Homo sapiens: one gene and its partner. The protein of the gene in region 1 interacts with the protein of each later gene in a biochemical or structural test. Each region holds a gene or a part of one and is shown on either strand. Other genes may lie near its edges.

Evidence for each region.
Region 2: the proteins of TCEAL3 (region 1) and CDC42 form a complex in vitro, tested with the Homo sapiens proteins (one large-scale study listed by BioGRID).

What each region holds. Positions count from the first base shown.
Region 1 is NC_000023.11:103,606,380-103,610,622, forward strand, and holds TCEAL3 (transcription elongation factor A protein-like 3), read left to right. Parts: upstream 1-1,583; 5' UTR 1,584-1,679; exon of another isoform or gene 1,680-1,691; intron 1,692-2,224; 5' UTR 2,225-2,294; intron 2,295-2,658; 5' UTR 2,659-2,685; coding exon 2,686-3,288; 3' UTR 3,289-3,548; downstream 3,549-4,243. UniProt on the Homo sapiens protein: May be involved in transcriptional regulation.
Region 2 is NC_000001.11:22,076,393-22,080,208, reverse strand, and holds part of CDC42 (cell division control protein 42 homolog isoform 1 precursor), read right to left. Parts: intron 1,781-3,816; 5' UTR 1,731-1,780; coding exon 1,626-1,730; intron 1-1,625. UniProt on the Homo sapiens protein: Plasma membrane-associated small GTPase which cycles between an active GTP-bound and an inactive GDP-bound state. In active state binds to a variety of effector proteins to regulate cellular responses. Involved in epithelial cell polarization processes.

The DNA of each region.
Region 1 (4,243 bases):
AGTGTGGGTTCTGGAGCCATCTATTAAGATAAGAGAAATGAAGAGGAGGGAGTTTTGTGTGTGGAAAAGATCAAGGAAGGATGGTAAAATCACTTGGGACATATTGCATTTGAGGTCCTTCAGGGACATTCAGGTGGATATATCTAATCGTTAATTAAAACGGATCTGAATCAAATTTATGCTGAAGTTCATGTAGAAAAACAAACATACAAGAATGTGTTGGAAAAAAGAGAATCTACTGAGGGGACCTAGCTCTACCAGATATATGAAATTATATATCCTCTATAATTCAACTGGTATATGGATAGCAAACAGACCAATGAAATAGAATAAAAAGCCCAGAAGGTTTTCCAAGTACATATGGATATTTGATATGTAATAAAGGTGGTATCTCAAATCCCTAAAGCAAAGATGGACTTTCTGATGCCAGAACAACTGAGAAACCGATTGGAAAAAGAAAACAAAAGATCCATCAATACTTTATGCCATACACAAATATAAACTCTAAATGTAAAGAAAACCATATGAATACTAGAAGAAAACATGGGTGAATGCTTCTTGGACCTTATGTAGGAAAAGATTTCTTAACTATGAATCGAAATCTAGAGGCAATAAAAGTTAAATAAATTTGACTACTTTTTTTAATGCATGGCAGAAAAACACCATAAACAAAGCCAAAAAGCAACTGACAAACTGGAGAGAAAATTGCAACATATATAACAGTTAATGTATTAAGAAAACTTGAAAATTGAGGTGAGAAGGACCAACAACCCACTAGAAAAATGTGGAAAAGACATGAACCGACAATTCACAAAGAAAGATATTTAAATTGTCCTTAAACACAGATAAGGCAAAATAAAATGCCATTGAGATATTACTTCTCAACTATCATATCAGTGAACATTTAAAAGTATGTCATAGGTTATGTTGGGAAGGGCATTGGGAAACAAAACACTCCCCTATATTTCTGATGGGAATGCAAAAATAGGTCTGAGATTCTGGGGAGGGAATAGCCTGGAGATGTAAATCTGGAAGTCATTGGTCTTTACTGGAAATGAATGAGATCAAACAGGGAGACAGAACTTGAGGACTGAGGAGAGAGGAGGCCCAGGACAGAACCCTAGGAACACTGCCACTCAAGGTGGCAGCTCAGCTTCCTGGCAGGCAGCACCACCCTGGGCTCTGGAGTCAGGCAGAGACAGTCTTGAAAGCGGGCTCTGGAGTTCTGGGGCTGAGCGCTCTTGGCAAAGTCGGGTACCCTCTTTGATCAGCTGTCACACCTGGCGATAATGGCATCAGAGAGAGATACCCTGCGAGGATGCCGTGAGATGCGCCAGGTAAAGCACCTGGGGTCAGAAAGCCACCCCCTCCTCCTCTTCTCCGTGACCCCCCTTTGCTACACAAACACACCCCGACCCCGACCGTCCCCAGCCTCCCGGTCCTTCGGGGTTGGATGGTGAGGTGGGTCAGGCAAGGGGGGCCGAGCTCGGGTGACGCGGCGCTCACGTGACCCGCCGGGCGCCTACGTGGGCACCAGCCCCCGCGCCCGCCCGCCCGCCCTGCGGTCCGGTCCTGGCGCCCGCGCAGAACCAGCTGTCTGAGCTGCCCGGGCAGCGGGGGAGCAGCGAGCGGGCTTCCGCGAGCCGGAGAAGGCACAGGCCTGTCCCGGGTCCCGGCAGGTCAGTGTGAAGGTGGGCGCTGCCGGCGGAACCACGGAAGGGGTGGAGGTGGCTGGCAGTAGGAGTAGGGAGGGGCGGAGAAAGGATCCGGGAGACTGGTGAGGAGGGGGAAGCGGAGCGGTCGGAGGCAAGGGCGGGGGAGCCTGGCCCGCCTTCTCGACGACCCCCTGCACTGAGCCGTCCATCCATTTTAGTACTGGAAATGGAGTACGGGGGGGCAACCCCGCAGTGCAACAGTGAAACGTAGACATATTCTGGAAATAACCGCCTCTCACAATCTGCTCCCATGGAAACATCTGACCTCCGCAAAAACGGGGTGGCGCTGGGACAGGTTGCCTCCAGGGGAAGGGGACACAGAGACAAACGCAGTTTGGAAAGCATCCTGGTTTGGTGCCCGAGGCCTGGAAAGAAATGGCGGCTGGGGTGCGGGGGATGTAGGGGAGGAAAACGTTGGGTAAGCAGGGCCTGGACTCAGGAAAGGGAACCGAGTCCCTGTGAGACCGCTGACTGCGCAGCCCCTACCCCTGTCTCCTGTCTGTCCGCAGGTCTGCGCGTCTGTTCCCAGCGCTCTGCGAGGCCTAAAAAGGAGGAGCAACCTGTCCAGAATCCCTGCAGGTCTGTGAAGGTGGTTGTGGGGGAGCTCAATGGACAGGGCCCTATAAGGGTTGAGAGTGTGGAGGGCCCGGCCAGGGCCGAACTGGGGCCCCTGCCCATCCCCCACTCACATGAACACACACCTTACCAGGCTGAACCAGTGCAGAGAAGGTGGCAGGGACTGCCAGGGAATGGCTGGCTCACGTGTGTGGGAGGAGTGGCAGGCTACGTGGTGGGCAGAAGGCCCTCTTGGGGGCCCTGCCAGCTTAGGGGAACCCTCACCAGGGGTGAGATGCAAGTACTATCCAGACCTGCATTCCACCCCATGCCCTCAGTCTCCCATGTCTCTTATTTGTCTCCTCTTCCCTCCATTCCCATCCCCCAGGACAGGAAAAGGAGGGGAAATCTCGACATGGAAAAACCCTACAATAAAAATGAAGGAAACCTGGAAAACGAGGGAAAGCCAGAAGATGAAGTAGAGCCTGATGATGAAGGAAAGTCAGACGAGGAAGAAAAGCCAGACGTGGAGGGGAAGACAGAATGCGAGGGAAAGAGAGAGGATGAGGGAGAGCCAGGTGATGAGGGACAACTGGAAGATGAGGGAAGCCAGGAAAAGCAGGGCAGGTCCGAAGGTGAGGGCAAGCCACAAGGCGAGGGCAAGCCAGCCTCCCAGGCAAAGCCAGAGAGCCAGCCGCGGGCCGCCGAAAAGCGCCCGGCTGAAGATTATGTGCCCCGGAAAGCAAAAAGAAAAACGGACAGGGGGACGGACGATTCCCCCAAGGACTCTCAGGAGGACTTACAGGAAAGGCATCTGAGCAGTGAGGAGATGATGAGAGAATGTGGAGATGTGTCAAGGGCTCAAGAGGAGCTAAGGAAAAAACAGAAAATGGGTGGTTTTCATTGGATGCAAAGAGATGTACAGGATCCATTCGCCCCAAGGGGACAACGGGGTGTCAGGGGAGTGAGGGGTGGAGGTAGGGGCCAGAGGGGCTTACACGATATCCCATACCTTTAATGCCTTTGGCCTTCCATTCTGATTTCTCTGATGAGAATATTGCTGGCCCTGCTTTCCCTGGTAGGTATTTGCCAGGCCCAATGCTTTAACCTTAAGCTGATACTTTGCTTTAGATGTCAGTCTCGTTACCAGCAGCCTTTTGACCCAACTACGGCGCTCTATATTTTAGTAGAGGATTTTCACCCATGTGCATGGAAAAGATGTTCATGGTACATTGTAAAAAAATAAAATTAAAATTAAAAAAAGTTTGCAGAACCGCATATACAGTATCAGCCCGTTTTTATAAAAATGTAAATGTTTGCATAATGCATTTGTGCACAAAGAAAACTCTGAAAGCATGTACACTAAAAAGCAGCCAATGGTTATTCCTGAATGGTATCCAAAAATGAGTTCAATCACTTGCTGGGTAGGTACCTCCATGCCATTCTGCTGTTGTTGTGCCCATCCTCATGTCTTCCCTAGGTGTAACTACGTGAGTGGGCACTGCTACCCCTTCTCCTGGGTCCTTTACCATCCTATGGCTCCCCCATAGGATGCGATTCTTTTTCTTTTCTTTGCTCTCACTCATCTCTACCTTTTCTTAAAGGATATGTCCTTTTGTCATAACAATAATTTTAAAAACTAAACGAGAAAACAATACATAAACAATTGAACTGTTCAATGAGCTTATGAGGGTAATAAAGACACTTAAAATTTCTGTTGCCAGAACATAAAATGATAAGTAAAATTCATATTACCTCTGAGACTAACAGCTAGAGGTATCAACCTGGCAGTTATAACAAATCCATTGCTGTAAGGGTCAGTCTTGCCATCTGTGAAATGGGGATAATACTTATCTCACAGGACTGCCCAGTGGATCAGATGAGGTATTGAACATGTGAGCTGTCCTTACAGGAGCAGGACCCAGCACCCTGTCAGACACTTAAAAGAAGAGCTGAAGGTAGGTTTCACCTGT
Region 2 (3,816 bases), on another chromosome or scaffold:
TACGCTAAGTAATTAAACTTAGACTTCTAAGTCTCATCCCTAAATTGGGCCTGAGTACCCTCATCCATTAAGAGATGGGTAAGACAATATATATTGTCCCATCCAGCTCTGAATTTCTATTACTCTAGAAATGGCAAGCCCCAACTCATAGATGGGAACTTAAATGCATTCTACACCAAATCCATTTCCATATTAACTTCAACAGGTACCATGAGAACATTACTTGTGCCTCATGGTCCATTCATTTACCTAAATCGGTTCATTTAAAATTTTATTCTACTACTACTCTTCCTTCCACTCTATCACTTTTCCAGAGATGTACAACACAAACATACATATAAAACACCCACAAGCCCACTTAAAATATAACACCAGAAGATCAAAGTCATAAAAGACTCAGAAATTATGTTTACAAGTAAATAACTTCAATGGAGACTGAAACAGAAAAATTCTGATAGCTGTCCTCACTCTGAAACAAGATTCATGTACCTCTAAATGTCCCCTGTAAGTCCACTGAACCTCAAAACGTCTTCCATTTATCTTGTCTCCAAATGAGCCAATTCAAAATATCAATATGATTTTAGTGTTTAATAATACCTTCAAATTCTCCCCCCTTCAAAAAAAAAACTTTCCTTATTTTTGAGACAGGGTCTCACTACCTTTCACAAATGAGTGTTACTCTAACTCTTGTCTCTCTCTCACTTCAATATTTTTGTTATTCCCATCTTCCTTCTACCATTCCAAAGAGTTGATTTAAAAAACAGTTATGGGGCCAGGCATGGTGGCTCACGCCTGTAATCCCAGCACTTTGGGAGGCTGAGGCAGGTGGATCATTTGAGGTCAGGAGTTCAAGACCAGCCTGGCCAACATGGTAAAACCCCGTTTCTACTAAAAATACAAAAATTAGAAAGGCGTGGTGGCGGGCGCCTGTAATCCCAGCTACTCAGGAGGCTGAGGCAGGAGAACTGCTTGAACCCGGGAGGCGGAGGGTGCAGCAAGCCGAGATCGCGCTACTGCACTCCAGATAGAATGGACGATAGAGACTCCATCTCAAAAAAAAAAAAAAAAAGAAAAAAAGAAAAGAACAGTTGTGGGAGTGACCCCCAAAGGACTCTGTTGGTGTTCTCGAAACATAACAGGTCTTCTCTTCTCTGCCCCTAAGAACCAGTTTGGAGCTCCATTACTGCTAAGCGAACAGCTCCACAAGAAAAGTGGAGACACATACTACTTTCTCTCAAGTTACAGGACCTCAAATGGTATCCCAGGAGACCTCCAAGTACTGATCAATAATTGGCCAAAATATCAAAAAAAAAAAAAAAAAAGTCACCTCATTCCAAGATGTAGGGCATACTTCACCAAATTGAGACCACCACTCGTTAGAATCTTGTCTACTGGAGTTTTGCCTCCCAGCACTTCTTGCAAACCCTGTGTCACCCCTTCTGACTTTCCACTGATTTTTCAGCTGTTTAAAGTGTATATAATTTACCCATGAGAAGTCAAGATCTTTAAAAACAGGAAACAAAGGCAGACAACAGAAAAAAATTCAGTACACATAGAGAAAGCGTTTTCAAAAGGATATCAAATTTTACAACATTTTACTAACAGAAGGAAGCCTTTATACTTACAGTCGGTACATATTCCGATGGAAATTTGTTTGTTGTGTAGGATATCAGGAGACATGTTTTACCAACAGCACCATCGCCCACAACAACACACTTAATTGTCTGCATTGCTGAAATAGTTTTGTATCCACTTTAAATATTTCAAATCTGATGATGACCTGCAAAAAGATTAAAGACATTTGTTTATTTATACTTACATATGGATTTTTCTTCCTCACTTAGCAACAGGTTCAGGCACTCAGAGCAAGAAAAGAACTAGCACAATTATTATGGCTAAAAGAACCCAATAAGAGACACAATGACTTGCTATAAGTTACAATAACAAATAAGGTCCATTTCTAAGTTTCTGATCCCTGGCTATTCCAACTTCTTAAGTGTTATTTTTAAAAGGTCCAAAGTGGTGTGATAATCAGCGAATTTATTTTTATCATGAAAGAGAAGAGGCTGTATCAGAGAAAATTCCACAGTGTGCTAAATATTATTTTGTGAAAGCTGTTCTTCAGTTACACGTGCACACACACCTGTATGTATGCATGTATGTCAACTAGACTGCAATACAAAGGCCACTGCTTTAAAGAATGGTTCATGATCCAGCCTTATTCAGCCTTACTCAGGCTCTGACCAACAAGCAGCAGAGCACCACACGATCACACGGTAATTATATGAGTAACGTGAGGAACTGAACAAAGAACAGGGTGATCGCTGGCCTCAGCAGCTGTTTTAGCACCAGAATGCCTAGTCCAAAACCTACATTTTTATAATGAAAAAGTCAGATTGCTCTAAAGCATACTGACTTATAAACAGATACTATAGCTTCTCTTACTAGAGTCCTCCTCCATTTTAAGAAGCTATCAATTACAAGTACCAAAGAGTCATTAATTTGAGATGCTTTTTTTCATGTTAACATCTCTAAAGTCAGAATGTATCTTTGAGTCTCTTAGAATCATTATCAGCCATTTTTCCCCCACATTTTGACTTCTATGAAATTGGAATCTTAGATTCAATGAAATACTTTAACAGTTTTCTGAAAGAATAAAAAGAAACACCACCCAATATGTACCTAAATTTTAAGATTTATATTTAAATTAATTTAAATTATAATCCTAAAGGGGTTATAATTAAACATAAAAATACAGAACCACCTAACTCTTGGTCAGATGCCACCATGCTCCTATAGCACCATTCACAACAATTAATCATAACAATTTATAAATGCCTATTAACATCCCTGTAAATGAACCTATACTACCTCATGCACCACTATACTTCTAGCACTGAGCACTTCTAGACTGACACACTGTGAGTTGTTGATTGGATGCAAAAATCACGAAACAAAAGAACATGAAACTACATTAGTGTGAGTAACTCACATGAAATATACACTCTCCCGCTCCTCATCAAAATTATCTGCAGTATATTTTTCTTTTTTTTAGACAGGGTTTTACTCCCGTCACCCAGGCTGGAGTGCAGTGGCACAACCTCAGCTCACTGCAACCTCCACCTCCCAGACTCAAGCAATCCTCCCACCTTGGCCTCCCAAGTAGCTGGAACCACAGACGCATGCCACCATGCCCGGCTGGGTTTTTGTTTGGTTTTTGTTTTTTTAAGAGACGGGTCTCACTGTTACCCAGGCTGGTCTTGAATTCCTGGACTCAAGCAATCCACTCACCTCGGCCTCCCAAAGTCCCAGAGTGCTGGGATTACATGCATGAGCCACCGCAGCCAGCCATATTTATCCTTCTTTATTCAACTTCCTTTTATATCTCCTTTTTCCTTCTCCTTTCCCTTTTATGCACTAAGAAGCACCCATACTAACTAATACAGCATTAAAGATTAACAACCCTGATCCCTAAGATCAATCAATTACTGGTTAAATCTAAAAGCACTCAAATAATAATAGTAAGCAGCAAACACTCATACAGCATTTACTAAGTGCTATGTACTGTTCAAAACATATTACACATATTCACACATTTCATCCTCCCAAAAAGCCTATGAAGTATGTGCTGTATTATCCCTATTTTACAGATAAGAAGAGTGAGGCTCAGCAAGTAACTAAGCCAAGGCTATTCAGCCAGTAACTGGGAGAACTGTAATTTAAACCCAAGCAGTCTGACTCTCAAGTCCCTGCTTGTTGTGTGTGTGTGTGTGTGTATGTGTCAGTGCAGTGGCGTGATCTCTGCTCACTGCAACC